4 separate regions of the Homo sapiens genome follow, and all the other regions are linked to region 2. The links come from fine-mapping of genetic effects on gene expression. A gene starts in region 2. Each other region holds a variant in brackets. All regions are shown on one strand. Distances are between the middles of the regions.

The links. PIP is the estimated chance that this variant, and not a neighbour inherited with it, causes the effect.
Region 1: its variant is the best candidate, but not a certain one, in a credible set for the expression of PLXNA4 in whole blood (INTERVAL, PIP 0.89).
Region 3: its variant is the best candidate, but not a certain one, in a credible set for the expression of PLXNA4 in whole blood (TOPMed, PIP 0.65).
Region 4: its variant is the best candidate, but not a certain one, in a credible set for the expression of PLXNA4 in whole blood (INTERVAL, PIP 0.86).

The regions. Positions count from the first base shown.
Region 1 is chr7:132,483,353-132,487,512 of GRCh38, reverse strand. All of the region lies in intron 3 of PLXNA4 (plexin A4), which reads left to right. Among named protein-coding and RNA genes, the nearest start is that of PLXNA4, 91 kb to the left of the region's middle. The variant A/G (reference allele first, on the strand shown) is at 1,877.
Region 2 is chr7:132,574,427-132,578,586 of GRCh38, reverse strand. PLXNA4 (plexin A4) reads left to right here and starts at 2,117. Exons shown (of 32, transcript NM_020911.2): 1 at 2,117-2,165. RefSeq lists enhancers at 1,678-2,655, 2,656-3,633.
Region 3 is chr7:132,423,439-132,427,598 of GRCh38, reverse strand. The region is part of intron 3 of PLXNA4 (plexin A4); the gene reads left to right. Among named protein-coding and RNA genes, the nearest start is that of PLXNA4-AS1, 73 kb to the right of the region's middle. RefSeq lists an enhancer at 1,206-1,903. The variant G/A (reference allele first, on the strand shown) is at 2,118.
Region 4 is chr7:132,754,961-132,759,120 of GRCh38, reverse strand. LOC100506937 (a long non-coding RNA gene) reads right to left here and starts at 151. Exons shown (of 2, transcript NR_134332.1): 1 at 1-151. RefSeq lists an enhancer at 1-102. The variant G/A (reference allele first, on the strand shown) is at 2,012.

The sequences.
Region 1 (4,160 bases), 91 kb after region 2:
CTTCAGTAGGATTTGGCAAATTTGGTCTGCTGGAAAAGTGAATTCTAAATACCGGGGGCATTACTGTGTACAATTCATGCACTGAGACCTGCTTCACCTGCTGCAATGGGTGAATGAGCACCATTAAGAGTAAATAAGTCAGCAAGCAGTATGGGGGATGCTTTAACTCTTTTCTCCGGTGAGCTCAATCTCAGTGCAATGTAGAAGTAACTTCCTGCCTTGCCCTAAAAGAGTCTTACCCGCTGAATTTCCTACCAGCTGCCAGAGGACCATTTACTAGCTGGCAGGATGGAGTAGACCCTGGATGAGGATTTGTGTGTGTGTGTGATTGTCTGAGCTGGTTGGGCAGTGAATGTTATCAATGAAATGAACATTGAGAGTTCAGTGCACATAACAAAACAGTTATTTTCTCTTGGAAAAAGGAAGGTGTTTCCTGACCATGGCTGCATTGTAAACCCAAGATAGTCAACTTGCATTTTTGTGCTGTTTGTCCAAGGGTGGGTTGAGGCATTTGGTGACTGGTACTCTCTTGCCTGTGGAAGCCTGTCCAAATCTGTTCCCCGACAGGGAGGTCAAGTGCAGCACCATGAGTTTGGGATCAGGACACCCCCAGGAGCCTGGGCCAGCAAGGCGCTCAGAGACAACCCTCCTGAGGCAGGTAAGGACAGAGTCCAGCAGTCGGTCAGGCAGGCAGTGACAGGTGACACAGGCAATACCCCACCAAGAGGCTGGGGCTTCATAAACCGCGGCCGGCATTCCCATCTTTTACTTTGGTAGGTTGATATAAGAACAGTTCTGTTTCAGCCACCTGGGATATTCTATCTAATTTCCAGAGCAGTGGTGGGGCTGGTGAGGCATAAACATTTGAAAGGTAAGAGCGCAAGGGTCAGTTGGGGGGAATGAGCCTTCGGTCCTCCCGGGGAAAGCCAGGCCACTGGGGCGGCCAAACTTTCTGCTCTGCAGGCTTGGAGTGGCAGCCTTTTAATGGTTTTGCTCAAGCCCGGCTCCCGTGCCTGCAGACTCAGCACAGCTGGCCCAGGGGAACAGTCTGAGTTGGGAAAGGAAGGCTGGGCTGCCGAGTCTGTTGTTTGAAATAATAAAAAGCAAAAGTGGCCCATTTATTTATTTTTTCTTGAACAATAGAATTCCCCACCCCCACTCACTCACTAAGCACCACTCCCCTTTCCTTGTAATAATTCTGACTTGCTTTTCCCAGAGGTTATCAGGACCACAGTCACCTTTTGGGCAGAGGCCCAGCCGTGACAAGTTGTGGAGCTGCAGGAGGATTTTGCTGGAAGTTTTGCAAGTGACTGAGGCCAGGGCGTGAGAATAATGGAAATCATACTGTAGCCATAATTACAGAGTTGGTTTCTCTGAGCCCTGTAATAATCTCCTGTGTGTATCAAGGACCTTTCAGAGTTCTTTACGGTATGACAAGAGACTGGAAATGGGGGTAGGTGGGCAGGAGAGAGCTTGGGGGGATGCTAAGAGTAAGGGTGTTTGCTGTGGGTTTCAGGGGTCCAGGAGCTAGACCGAGCTATCCGTGGGCTGCTCTCAAAATTACTTTTTATTTTGCTTGAAAGGCATGAGTCCCAATCATTTGCAACCTTGTCTTTGACGACCGTAATTTCACTCCTTTAGTGCACACGTCACATGAAGCGGGGGGAAAGGAGGTGAGGAAAGTGCCAATTTAGATGTCTTTGATGTTTTCTGATGTGTGTGTGTTGCAGATGGTATTGGCAGCCTCTTCCTGTGGTGAGCTTTAAGGGTATGTGTGTTAAGAAATATGACCTATAAATACTACAGTCATAAGCAGGTGTCTAGGAACTTAGCAATAACCTACAGACTGTTAACATTTCCACTATAGGTAAAAATC[A/G]TAAGGCAAATGCCATCTTGACTGGCTTTAGGGCCAAGCAAACCTAAATCTTTGGCTTGAGTTGGGACAATCAGCTCAGTGTTGTCTCAGAAGCACGAGATTTCTTTGCTTGAATATTTCTGCTGGAATCTTTTCCCTCTCTTGCTTTCTCTGCCTCTTGCTTTCCTTTCACTAAGCGATCATTTTTATGGCTGCTGTTCAGTGGTGAATTACTGCCTGACATTAGTGGGAGAGACTAATGTTCATTGTGAACCAAAACATCATAAACTTCCACTTGAGGTGTGATTGCTCCTCTCGCTGGTGATTGCGTCTTCCCTGGATGTTTTTGCTAGGTTAAACTGTTCACACCTAAGGGGGTGGAGCGCTGTATGGATGTTGGTTAAGCGGAACTCTGGCTGGCCCTGCTATTAGCCTGTTGCGGGACATGCATCCATGTGTCTGTGCACAGACTAATCCATACCAGCCTCTCTGAATAGGTACTGGGTGCACATTCCCATGAAGAGGCAATAGGAGTATATAGTACAAAAACCATTCTTATTGGGAATTGTCATGTAGATTAATTTAATCTTCCTAATTTTTTTTTCTCAAGCCTGTTTTAAAATTAATTTGCTTTTGTTCCCTAGTCCTTCGGCACAGGTCCACAAGGGGGAATCACCCAGGAGTGGATTGGAGTGGAGGGAGACCCACCTGGGGCGAACATTGCTTCTCAGGAACAGATGCTGTGTGTGTATCTTCAGTGCTCAAGTCACAAAGCAATATCAGATCAGAGAGTCCAGCCTCTGCTTTGTTGCTTCCTAAATGTACCTGGGAATTCTTCCTAAAATTACTCTGGAAATTTGAATCCACTTTAACTAAAAATAAATATTCATAGCACAGAAAGCCCTGCAGATGGATGGAAGTGTCAGGAAATCAAATGGAGATACAATGTTGGAACACCAAATAGACTAGGAACATGTGGTTAGGGCAGAGGGCATATGTATTTGATACAGGGTTCGGTCAGGTAGTTCTGTTGTGCTATATGTTTCTCCAGCCCAAGCTGCCATGGGTTCATGTGTGATTGATCACAAGCACAAAGGGAAAGAAATGCAGAAGCATCAGGGCTGACCGATTTCCATGACAGGAAAAGACCCTCTATTTGCTATATTGTGTCTGCATTTTCCATCCCTGGTTTTGCAAATATTAAACCTGCATAGACCTTACCCTGTGGGTTGTGTGAAGGGGAGGCTGAGGTTGAAGGGCTCCAGGCAGAAGATCCCACAGGTGTGCCAGCGTGCCACCCTCCCTCCTCTGATTTCACGTTCAACCACAGACAGACGGCATTCTGTCGTTAGTCTTTCCAGCCTGGGAATTCTAAGACTGGCCCTTCAGACTGATCTTGCCTCAGACCAATGTATCCACTTCTCATGGGCCTTCCTCCCACCTTGTTTCAATCTCTTCTGCTATGTTTTAAGCTTTCTTCCCAAGTTTTACTCAGTTGACTAAAAGAGCAACTAAGCTGGTTGATATCCTCTTGGACATATTTTATATTCTTGAACACTATTAAGCCCTCACTCAATCACCCTTTTGATGTAAGTGTGGCCACACTGGCCCTCTTTTCTTATCTTTTTCCATTTCTCACTATTCTGCCCTTGGGCCCACCCACCTTCCCTGCACATCCCTGGGGGATCTCAAGTGGTCCCTCCTTGCTGACCTGAATAAACCCGGGGAGGTGTTCTCATCGTGAAATTTCTACTGCAGCCAATAGCTAGGCATTGTTGCATTCTCCTCCTGACTTCCTCCTGAAACACACATTGAAATCCCAGCAAAGAGTTTCTCAGGAACACTTGTCATTCTGTTTTCCAAGTGATCATTGCTAGTGCACATGATTTAAAGAGATAGTCTTAAATGAGCTTTGCCAATTCAAGATTTATTGATACGTGTGCCACTTTTTTGAATCATATGTGTGTATATATACACACATTGGTATAGAAAGATCCTGATCATAAATTAAAATGCAAACACATTAAAATTGAAGAAAGTGCTGCACAAACACCCCAAATCATAGAGCGCATTCAGTCAGCTGATACACAAATGTCAGACGCACTAGAGGAATTTATCCAGTGACACATGCAATTGAAGTAAAATATTGTGCTTTACAAAAACATATCATTAAAATGAAAACTAGCAGCATATTAGGAGTCTGGCCATGTAACCAAGACAACAAAGATGGGAAAGGATGAAAGACATGATGTACAGAGGAAGAGGGAGGAGGCAGAGGCAAGAAGAGGGAATGAGCCCCCAACCA
Region 2 (4,160 bases):
CATCTCACAGCTCCTTTCAAAGGCTCCCCAATTCACACAACTTCGATTTCTGTGAGAATATAACCCCTATAGGGAGGTATAGGCATTTAAGCCATTATCAGTCATGTCCACCTAATAAGGAGGCTCTGAGATGTTTCGATGGGAGGGACAGTAATGGGCGGGAGTTTCTGGGTGTGAGGACAGTGAAAACTAAAGAAGGGACAGGAGAGAGGAGGCCAAGAGCCATGGGCTCCTTTAGAGGGTCGTCCTTGCTGGTTGCCTATCCCAGGGAATGCTTACTGGACTCTGCTGAAGGTGCCACTTCCCTCAGACTATGGTGGGAGCGGGTATGAGGATGAGGGTGGCATGCACAGAGTTGAGTTAACAGGTGTGGGAATCCCTTCGGTTTCTCTTGGTGGGTGGGCCCATTCCTAGGGGGATCTAGGCAGAGGTTTGGGAGGTAGTGCCACCCACTCCCCATCTTCACTGCCTAAACCAGAGCTACATGGTGATTTCTTTCTTTGGGCTTCAGAAACCACCCTGATGTTGGCATGGTCTGTTCTGGATGTAGTCTAGGATCTAGGGTTTCAGAGAAGAGAGGAGCCAGGAGAGCCGCTCAGTATAAACATGAATGGAAAAGTCAGGTTACCAAGCCAGCTCTGGGGCACTGGCCACTCATGTTCTCTCGTGCGGGCCTTGTGCCCTCAGTGTCCTCGGCCTCCTTGGGTGCCATGTGGGGGTGACTTGGTGGGGTGTTGGGAGGGGTTCTGACTAGCAATGGGTGTATGCCTCAGAGTCAGTGTGCGCTTGTGTCAGCTCTGAGCACCTGAGGGTCCCTCCGACGGCCAGCGCCCAGAGCTGCAAATTCCGAGGCGGCTGAGCGCCTCCCTCTGAGCGCGCGCCGTGCGCTCCGGTCACCCATGTATGCCCCTCTCTCCGCCCCACATCGCCACCGCCAGGGTAGCTCCGTGCGGGCCGAGGGGACCCAGGGGGGTGTCGGCAAACGTTGGTGCGGAGGAGAGCCGGCAAGCCGGGCGGCGGCGGGTGGGAGCATGTAGGGAGGCGCCCCCTGCCCCCTCTGCCGGCCGCTCTCCCTCGCTCTAGATGTCAGCCGCGAGCTCCGAGCCAGCGAGAGCGAGCCAGAGAGGGAGCGGCGGCGGGCGGCGGGCGGCAGGGAGGAGAGGAGGCGAGGCGAGGGAGGGAGGAAGGGAAGCAGGGAGGGCGGGAGGGAGGAGAGGAGGACCCAGAGAGCGCCAGGCAGCTGGAGTTTTTGCAGCGCTTGGCCGGGCTTCAATGCACAGCAGCAGCGAGCCGCGGCGGCAGCAGGCAGCCCGGGAGCTCCGGCGGCGGCCGAGCCAGCGGCGGCCCCGCTCCCTGCCCCCTGCAAACTTTGCGAGCAGCCCGCCCGGGGGGCCGGGGGCGCGCCCGGGAGGCCCGGCTCGGCCCGCGGCCGAGCTCTCCGCCGCCGCAGCGCCAGCCGCCGCAGCCACCACCGCCGCAGCCCCGCGCCTCCCCGGGGAGCAGCCGGCGGCTCCCGCGGCCCCCCAGCCCCGGCCCCAGGGCACTGCCCGGCGAGTGTCTCGGCAAGGGTGGGGGCTGCCGCGGCGCGGCCGGCCGCGGGCTGCCGGGGGGCGGCCGCCGCTACCCAGAGAGGCGCGCAGAGGCGCCGAGAGCGCTCCCCGGCGGGTCCCCCGCGCACTCGCCGCGCCCGGGCAGCGGCCCGACCGGGCGAGCATGGGCGGCGCGGAGTGACGCCGCTGTGCCCGCTTGGCATCAAGGACATTCAGCCCGCGGGGGTGGGGACGAAGGGGGGCAGCCCGGCGTCGCCACCGCAGCCCCCGAGAGCCGCCGCCGCTGCTCGGGCTCCGGGGCTGGGTGGAGGAAAGGGGTGTTCGGAATCGATCCCCATTTTCCGACCTTTTTGTTGGACATTACGCCCACCTTGGACGCCGCAAGAGAAGCTGTCAAGCCCCGCAGGCTCTGATTCGGCGCCCTCCGCGTTCCTCGGCTGCTCCCGGCTTCCCTGTGCCTCGGTGGAGTATTTGCGTTCGGGGCTGGGGCTGGAGGAGGCAGCCACACGCGCGCACACGCACACGTTCAGAGGAGGGCGAGAGGCAGCGGCATAGGCTCCATCTGCAGTGTCAATGCGGCGCTCCCGCTGAAGGAGGGAAACGCGGCGCGTCCAGGTAAGGAGCCGGCCCGCCGGGGAGTGGGGCCGGGCGGGCGGCGAGGGCAGCAAGGTCGGACAGACCTGGGCCGACCCGGGAGTCCTCAGTGTCCCGGAGCCAGCCCGCGGCACACGCACACGCACACACGCAGGCACACACACAGATCCACACCGGCACACACGGCGCTCGCGCACCTGCCCACGTCCCACCTGGACGCCCGCGGAGGTGCAGCGGCCGGAGCAGGGATTTCCCGGGTGTGTTCTCCTCTCACGCTCCTGGACTCAGACTTCTCTTTCCCGGGACTTTCGGGGTGGGATTCTGTGTATTCCCGGCTCTGCCTCCCACCCGGGGAGGTTGAGGGAGCAATTTTTCAGCTCCCAGCCCCTTTCGTCCCTAGCTGGGCTTTAAAATGGGAGAAGTCCTGAGAGGTTTCCGGAGACCTACCCAGTGTCATCGCGGCCCCGTGGCCTTTGGACACCCTGGGATTTCAACGGGAGACAGACCCACAGATATTCGGACGCATATTTGGAGAGAGTGGTGGCCCAGCGCCCGGGGAGGAGGCCAGATAGGCGGTTGGGGCTGCAGTTCTGTAGGGCGGCGCATATGAAACAGACACTGCGTTTCCCCAGTAAGAGGCAGCACAAACGCCTTTCTGAAGCGTGGCACTGCTTCCCCGGGAATGCGCCGAGATTTCAGGCAGAAAGCGGCTTAAAGCATCGCCGCGTATGTTGCTTGTCTAGGGAAGGTACGGGGGTCAGATCCTCCTTAAAAGGTAAGACCTTATTCACAGCCTCAGTGCCTGCTTAGCAGCAAGCAGACAGGACTTGGAGACACAGGACTTGGGTCCCCTCTCACCTCCCTACCCTCCCTGGGCACATGGGGCTGCCTTCCCCGGTGCCTCCGGCTGGCGAACACCTGTCACATGCCTTTCGTGGTGTGTGTCTGAGAAAGAGAACTAGAAGGGGGAAGCACGAGGGATATAGTCCTCCAAAAGAGGAGGCTCCCCTCCCTCACGACCGTGGCGGCACTGCCCACCGGAGAAGGCAAGGCATTCGTGGGTCTGCCAGCGTCCCCCAGAGCCCAAGCCTGCTCCGATTGTAGAATCACTCCCCAGACGCCCGTGCTTTAAGGTCCTATTTCCCGAAAGCATTTTCATTCTTGTTCTCTCTGGCTGGAATTTCACAGGCTGCTCATTTTAACTTTTTCTGGAGGAGGTAGGAAGTGGCTGGGGTTCTAAGAGGCTTTTCCATAGTTCCCTTCTTGGGGTCTAAGAGCAACTAATTTAGGGTCTCAGTTGTCATAGGGAGAAGAACATGAGATCCAAATCAAATTCGGAATTGAATATATATGTACAAGCTCCTGTGTTTCTGGTGCTGTCACTTTGAGGTAGCTTTCTAGGCAACATGATCATATCATTTTCCCACAAAACTGAATAAGCTTGTACCCTCTGTCCAAGATCATGTGTTCAGAGTATCCCACAGACCCACCAGTGGAAAAAATATGTTAGGAGCCTTACAGAACATGATGGAAGAGGAGCAAACATTCTTTTGAACAAGGAGGCCTCAGTGCTAGGCTCAGAATTTGGGTTGTTTTTGTAAATCCTGAAGATAGGGGCTGAATGAAAGGGCTTTTTCAGCACCCTGACTCCGCTATTTCCAAACTTTTTTCAGCTCCTGCAAAGGTCTCTGGCTAGGCTGGGGAGAAGCGCAGACACCCCGGGAGGGAGATTGTATTCCCGCTGTGTGCTGTGTGAGCTGCCCTTTGATTGATTGAAAAGCATAGATGGAATAAAGCAAATCTCTCACAATGGAGAGACCCCAGTAGGGGGAAGAAACCTTATTTGCTTTTTAAGAATGGTGGGCGTGTGCACACACACACCCAATATATATACACACATGCGTTCTCAGAGTCTGGCTAAATGTGGTCAGCTCCCCGCCCCCGCCATGTGTGACAATGGGGTCCACCTCTGTCTTCCGGGCTGTGGAAGAAATGGAACATTTCTCCCCACATGCC
Region 3 (4,160 bases), 150 kb after region 2:
ACTTGTTAGGCTGAAAGCTGTACTACTCGCTTAGAGGAGCTAGCCCAGGTTCAATTCTTTTAGGGGTGGAGGTGAGGGCCCCCACAATTGTCACCCATGAGTTTATGACTGGGTGGGTGGGGGCCTGTCCATTCTGCTGTGTAGTTATTTCTCTTCCCTCTTTCCCAGCCTCTGGAACCAGAGAGGGGAGGAAAAAAGGAAGAGTGTGAGGGGCTCTGATGGGGCGCTGTAGACCCTAGTCTTCTACTTGGGGCACCCCAGCTCCCCTGGCTGTTTTTAAGGTCATGAATCCTTCCAGCCCTGCACTCCAATCCTGCCCTCAGTCAACCTCCTGGAGCTCAGACGTCCAGTGCGCCATTTCTCTGAAGGCTTTAAGGTCTGGGGTGAGGAGCAGGAAGAGGCCCCAAGGTCTTTTGTCTCCCAGAAGCTCTTCCCTCTGCCCTGGCAGAAGAGACAGCATTGCAGTGTCTTACCCAGTTGCCCTGCTAGGTTGCTCAAGTCTCCCACCACTTTTAAAGTTTGTGAGTGTCTTCAGTAGGAGTCACTGACTAGTTCTGGGGAAGAATCCCCTCCTGGGCCCCATTTCTTGTTTCATATGCTGAGCTTGGTCCCAAGGGGGTACAGGTGAGTGGATCCAGCTCTGGCCTGTGGGACTCTAGGACTCTAGGGGCTACTGCCCTAGGTCAGCATTTCTCAGCTTTTTAAAAATCACCTTTTCCCCCTTAGAGACAAGTTAAATTTAATTTAAATTCTCTTTAATGAGACGACATGTGAATTTATTGAGTAATGTTGACCTTTGGAGGGCCACAAATCATTATATCTAAGATTTTTTTTTCTTTTGCCCTCTAATTTTCACCCTCTGGGGAGCACTCTTGTACCCATTGAGAATGCATGTTCTGGGCTTTCCAGAAGACTATATGTTTTGAAACTGTCTGTAATTTCTCCAGACTCTCACTTAAGCTATAGAAAGGAGGGTCTCAGTGAATGAAGAATGTGCCTCCCAGGACTTTAGATGGTACTAAATCTGCTACTAGAGCAAATTTGCCTCAGTGTTTCTGGGCCTCTAAGTTTCCATGTATAGAATGCAAACACCTGCTGCTGCCCCTTCAACCAACAGGGAGGCCACACCTAGTGTCAGGTGGGCATGACACTGAGCTAGGGTTGGGCAGACATGACAGCGCTGGTCACACTGTGTGCCTCAGACAGAGGTGGAGACAATACATCTATACTGTCCTGTTCCTACCCTAACTCCTGCCCGGCAACCCAGCCAGTGGAGGGGTGTTCCTGAGGGAGAGGACCCCCACCCCCATCACCTTAGCCGCTCTACTGGGTCATCACCGGGGGCCATTGAAGGGCTGATGAGCCATGGCGGTGGGCTCTGCAGGATGATGGAGGCCCTGTGCAGTTGCTCTGGGCATCTTCTCTTGCTTGGCCGCACTTCTTGACACTCCTCCAGTTGTACACTGATCTCCCCCTGGGAGAGGCCCTCTTTCCCCTTTTCTGAGGCAGGAATGAATCCACAGCAGTGGCAGAGGCTGGGAGCAACCAGAAACTGCCCTGTGCCACCTTCCTCCTAAATGAGGCACCCCAGAGTCCTGTGCCTGCACTTTATGAAGAGTTTTCTCAGTTTCAGGGACAGGGAGTTGGGGCCACTGAGCAGGGTCAGGGAGCCTGGGCAGGAGGCCCGAGGGCTGCAGAAGCCCCTGTCTGCCTCCACTGGAACTGTCTGAGGGAGGCACCATGTTCAAGAGCAGGCCAGAGCCCCCAGCTCCCGCCCCCACCTCGATGGAGAGTTTAATAGGAAGCACAAATGAGAAACAGCCTTCTGGAATTTGGCTTTGGTTCCTTTCTCTCAGTTTCCTCAAATGTTTCTTTCTTCTCTGTTTCCCCTGTCCTTCTCCTCTCTCTTTGTCCTCTGCCCTTTTCTTCCTCCTTGTATGATTTTCTGGCTGAGTGTGTGGCCCTGTCTGCCTGCCTGCCTGTCTGCCTTCCTGTCTGCCTCTTCTAAGGCAGGTACCCCTGACTGGGGTAAGGCAGGGCTCAAGGTGGGGAGAGGTGGGGATCTGATGAGGGAGGGTGAGGAAGGGGAGGAGGAGCCAGGAGGGGCCTGGGGTTCC[G/A]GGAGACAGACATTAACCCTTTCTTGGCCTAAGGACGTCATTCAGCCTTCCCCTCCCCTTTCCCACCAAGGTCATAAAATCGGTCTCTTACTTTCACCAATTCCCCTGTCAGTGCCAGAAACACACAATTAGCTTTAAAAGTGTCTCCAAGCTGTGGCCAGTTAGAAATTTATGACTTTTTTTTTTAAAGCTTTCCTTTAAAGTGGCTAATTAGGTGTATTTCTCCAATGGTAATTTAAAAAATGCTAATTGGTCTGCACTCTGGAAGGAGGAGAAAAAAACTTTCCCCCTTATTATCTTGGCACTAGGGAGACGTAGAAGAGATTGACATGGCCTGAGCCTCCAAGGAGAGAGGCTAGGCGCCTGCTCTTTTACAGACTTGGCAGTGCGGAGGGTCCAGGAATGGTTTTCTGTGTTCCAGACTCCAGACAGTGGCCTTGCCAAGGGGACGTGGCACAGTGGGGCTAGAGAGGGCAGCTGGGGTAGGGCGGGGCAGTGAGCGGCTCACCCACCCAGGTGCCGTGATGCTGACACCCAGCAGAGGGGTGGCCTTCCTGGGAGGATGGGTGAGCTGGACGATGCGTGGAGGGCACACCATGGTCAGGACTCGGCTCTAGCACAAGATTTGACAGCTGCCAAACCACACGCTAGCAGAACCTCGTTTTTTTCCTATTTATTTATGTATAAAATTGTTATTGATTATATAATGTGATGTTTTGGTACATGTATGTAATGTGTAACCATCAGATCTGGGTAACTGGGATATGCATCACCCCAAACATTTATGTGAGAATTCACCATTTGAGGGAGGCTGTTTCTGCCAGGGACAATTACAAATGGAATGGAAAGGGGACAGTATCCAGGGTGTATAGTGTCCTCACATGGGGGAGGGGCAGGTCACAGGGAGCCCTGGGCAGGAATGAGGCTGGGAAAGGAATGCTGGCCTGGGGGGTTCTACTGACCTCCTGACTTGCCAGGAAGGGTGGGGGTTCCACCAAGATTTTGGTCCCTACAGAAGGATGAAGACGACATCAGCCTGGTTGGACGTCCACAAGGAGCAGTGCCCCCTCTACTGTCTTGTGGGCCTGGGCCAGGGCTCTCCAGCTGAGCTCCCTCCTCAGCCCCTTCAGCCATAGAGTATATTGGGACTTGGTATGGATTTCCTAGATCTGCCTCTTTTCCAAAAGTTGCTCAGAGATGGAGCAAAACCCAGGCCAGGGAGCGGGGGGCAGACCAGCAGCACCAGCATGTGAATCCACAACCCCTGCGTTTCCAAGACATGGGCCTGATGTTGGGTGAGGGGCTCCCTGCTCCTCTTCCTGGGGCTGGGGAGTCACTGAGACCCTGGCGAGGAGGAGGCGTGGGCTCATGCCTTTCAACGTCTCAGCCTTCTCTGTGGGAAAGCTAAAGTGGGGCTAGAATCAAGGGCCTCAGGTGACCCCTGCTCGTGGTTAGAGGCAAAGGGCATGTTCTGGGAGCTGATCCAGAGGGGAGGGCAGCCCTGAGAGGCATTGACCTCCATGCAGCCCCGCCTGGTTCAAGGGGGCCTGATGGGGAGTGGTGCGTTCTCCTAGAATGCTGTTGCTTTCTCCTTGTGGCCCCGATGGTGGTGGCTGTAGTGTGGCCATCCCCATGTGTTGCTATGTGAGTAACGCAATTACGAAGACACAAAACAGGGATGAAGAAAAACATTCTGCAGGAGAGAGAAGGGGAGGGAGGACCAGTCACAATCAGCTCTGTTGTTATCGGATCATTTCAGGGAGGAGTAGAATTCCAGACAGGGAGCCCAGTCCCATTTAAAACCCTGTGCTGTTGTGGAAGGGAGGAGTGATGATCAATTAAACAGATTCCTCAGCTTTTTTGCTGAAATGAGCTTTTATTAAGGATGTCACTTCCCCTCTTTGGCTTCATGACCATCTCTAGAAAAGCTGGATGGGCATACATGTGACTGATATTCTGGCCCCAAATCTCTGCAGCTCTCTGCAACTTCCTGCTCTCAGACTCAGTTTATCCATCAGCAAAATGGGAAGAGGGAAACCCCTT
Region 4 (4,160 bases), 180 kb before region 2:
TTCCTCACAGTCTGGAGGCTGGAGCAGGAGGTCAGGGTGCCAGCATAGCTGGGCTCTGGTGAGGGCCTCTTCTGGGCTATGTCCTCACATAGCCTTTCCTCGGTACATTTCAGTGGAAAGCGATCTCTCTCTTCCTCTTCTTATAAGGGCGCCAATCCTATTAAATTAGAACTCCGCCTTTATGACCTCACTTAACCTTAGTCACCTCCATAAAGGCTCTCCAAGTACAGTCATACTGGGACTAGGGCTTCAATATATAAATTTTGGAGGTCTGCAATTCAATACATTGCACATGGTAACAAGGCCAAGGTCATGCATCGTGTTCCCCGGGGCTCGTCTGGCTCACCCTGGTTGAAGGCATGAGGAACATTCTACCAAAGTCTGCTCACAGGGGAGGGAGGCATGGATTTGGTGTAGACAATTAGAAGGGCAAAATGTTAAACTCGTTTGTGGAGTCTAGTTCACTCCTTACTTCCAAGGACGAGAAAGTCACAACTCACAGAAATAAAGATGCCACAGTCCAAGTCTCTTGATGAGATTAACACTTTTAAAATGTGATTTCTGCAATAACCATGCCCATGTAAGCCACCTGAAACTAGTTCTGGGGCTGCCCATGTCCTGCATCCCAGGCAGATGTTCCCAGATGTTGATCTGGCTTCATGTGAAGCTTTGTAAATAGACCTTTAGCAGCTCCTAGGATTAACTCTCGAGGCAGGGAATCCAGAGCCCAACCTACTGTCTTCATTCTACTGACCCCTTAGAAACTTCTGGAGCCTCCGAGGAAACCCTAGGGCTCCAGGGACACAAGTGGGAATTGACTTATCAGAATCCAACATTCTTAGAGACAGTACACAGGAAAGTGACGTGCCCAAAGTCACGCAGGGACAACAGAAAGTTATTGGCAAAACCTGGAACAGATCCAAGGTCTCCACTCAAAGCCTGAGAGTTCCTTCCAGTCCAGAAGATCCCAAACTCAACCAAGTGTCAGAACCCCTTGGGTGTTTAAAATATATTTTTTTCAGGCACCATCCCCAAAGGATTCAATTCAGTGGGTCTGGAGTGGAGCCCTGGTATGTATGGGATTTGCAGTGGTTTGGATGTGGTTTGTTTGTCCCCACCAAAACTCAAGTTGAAATTTGATCCCCGGTGTGGTGATGTTGGGAGGTGGGGCCTGGCAGGAGGTGTTTGGGTCATGGGGAGGGATCTCGCATGAATGATGTGGTGCTGTTCAGGCAGTAGTGAGCTGTTCTTACAGGAGTGGATTTGTTCCCATGAGAGTGGGTTGTTATATAGCTGGAGACCCCTCAGGATTCCCCCTCTCCGCACATATTCACTTCCCCTTTGACCTTTCTCCCTGTGTCAATGCAGCAGGAAAGCCCTCGCCAGAAGCCAGGGCCATGCCCTTGAACTTCTCAGCCTGCAGAACCCTGAACTAAATAAACCTCTTTTCTTTATAAATTATCCAGTGGCAGGTTTTTTTTTTTCTTTTAATAGCAAAACAAAATGGACAAAGACAGGGATTCTTAAGAAACATTAAGTGACTGACATGGCTGCTTTTGCTATAAGCAGGCATTTAAGCTCAGCATGTGTAGCAGCTTTAGTGACGGCAAAACTGTTGGAGGCAGGGAAATAAGTCCCTTGGCTGGCAGTGCAAATCTTTGCTGGCTTGGTCCCTCTAGCACCAAGACTATTCTTGACTCTGCAAAAGAACCAAGGGTGAATCCTAGAACTGTAGGCTGTATCAGATTCCACAGCATCACTCTTCATGCGTCTAGAAAGTTCCCCGCACATTCCTATAGGTAGAACGCGTACATAAACAATGACAGGTGCAGACAGGCGAGCCCACTAATTATCACCATCTGGATGAATAGACTGAAGTAAAAAAAAAAACCTATGTGATGGAATTTTCTCCTCTTTGTTTTCTTATTTCTGGTGGCTTAAATACTGTGTTTAGTTTAAATACAGACATGATCCGACCACAAACATTATGGGCGTAAAAGCCAACACAGCC[G/A]ACTCCATAGAGAGACTGTTGCTTTCAGGTATGAAATAAAAATAGTGTTTGCTGCATCTCCAGGTGTTCCTGTCTCTTCTTGGCATGTGTCACCTCACTCCTCCACAGGACTTCTCTGGGAAGTTAGTTTACTCCCATTTCAGAGAGGAGTAATCGGCAGAGGAGAGTTTAAAAGGCTCAAGGTCACAGACAATAAGTGACAAAGTTGAGATGAAAAGCCACATGGCACATATTAGCTACAAGCAGGTCTAGCCTTGGTTCCTGAACCCAGAGGCAGGGCTGAGAAGAAGGACTGGGTTCATGGCCTCCTAAATAAAGGAAGTGGTAAGGGAAGTCTGGGCCACTGGGCTAGTCTTTGTTCTGATGTTGAAGGAGGAGCGTTTGAAAGGTAATCGTCTGTGTCGAGTGCATTCCACTCCTGTGCTGTGTCTCCTGGCCCTTGGATACTAGGTGTCTCTGCCCTCATGGCTAACAGGTGGGAGAGAAGGTGCTGAGTTCAGCTGCCAGGACACCCTGGGGACAAGTGTCCCTGATCCACTGGACCCCTTCAGCATTTGGGAAGATGAGATTTTCATCTTGAACATCTGGTATTGGCCGATTGGCAGGCTTTACACTGAATCTCTGGCGGTCTGCACCTGGCCTCTCCCAGTGTCTGGAAGACACTGTGTGTGGGGCTGACCTAATCCTTGGGAAATAAGTGAGTGCTAGTGGCCTGCCTGCCTTTTTTTTTTTTTTTTTTTTTTTTTTTTTTTGCAGCCTGGGATCAGAGCCAGGGCTGGTGCAGCTGTGGGGAGCTGGCAATGCCATTCTTGTCCACTAAGCACTGTGGATGCCATTGTTATCCACAGGGCACTGTGGCACTTGGAGATGAAAAAGATGAAGTCCCTGCCTCCCCCATCGAACTTCCCAGGGTAATGCTGGGCTGGAGAACACAGGGTCTGGGCCTGCTCAGGCAGGTTCTTTGGGAGCAGAGGGCAGAAGGGCCCTTTTGCTACTGGGGAAAATGGCTGAGGCAAGGTAAGGCAGAGGTGAAGCAGAGGCAATGGGCCTCTCCAGGCCTCTAGAACCAGACTCTGCAATGTCTGGAGCATGGCACCCCCCCAGGTGACTTATGGAATCTCTTCAGCTTGTTTTACATCTCTGTGACTTTTGCAGGGTTCAGATGGCATAAAGCTGTTGGGCTGGCCAATTTCTTGGGGTCTCTTTTCTTCTGTGGGCAGGGTTGGCACCTGGTAACTCCCTGTGAAAGCAGAAGCATCTCTTCTGCCACTGGTCTCTTTCGAGGTCAGGTCTTGGAGCCTTGTTAAAGGGCAAATGCCATCTGGCAACATTATTTGTTGTAACGCCTTAGTTCCTTCTCTTTGCTTCTGTGGGTGGGGTTGGCACCAGGTAACTCCCTATGAAAGCAGAAGCATCTCTTCTGCCACTGGTCTCTTTTGAGGTCAGGTCTCGGAGCCTTGTTAAAGGGCAAATGCCATCTGGCAATGTTATTAGTTGTAATGCCTTAGTTCCTTCTACAAAGTGAATTTGCTACTTCCCTACCAGGACCCTGGGAGGGCGAGACTTGGGACAGGTCCTGTCTTAGCAAGATGGGAGATGGAGGGAAGAGAGCTGAGAAGGACCCTGGCCATGTGCCCTGTTCCTTGTGGAGAAAGGGAATTTGCTGGAGGACCTGGGCAGATGATAAGCTGGGGCTGGAAGAGTCCTCATGCCTTGTGCATCTTCCCTTGGCTAATTTTAATCTGTATCCTGTAGCTGTAATAAACCATAATTGTGAGTATAACAGCTTTTAGTGAGTTCCATGAGTCTGTCTAGTAAATTATCAAACCTATGGGTAGTCTTGAGAACCCGTCAAACCTTACAGTTGGCGTCAGAATTGAGGGTGATCTTGCGGATGACTGAGATGACTGTTTCTTCAATTACACAGGTGGGTAGAATCATTTACCACCTGAACGCCTTTTAAATGCTGGCTTATGTGCCGAAGCTAACTGACCATAGACAGAGAAACTAGATTGAACATGAGAATCTAGGAAACAGTTCTTGGAACACAGGCTTTTAGCAGCAGGCGTCACAGAAGCTCCCCATGTGATGGGCCTTGGGAGCCTCCAGTGTGGTGACTACCTGAGAAAGCTGGGCTCTGGCGGAAGCA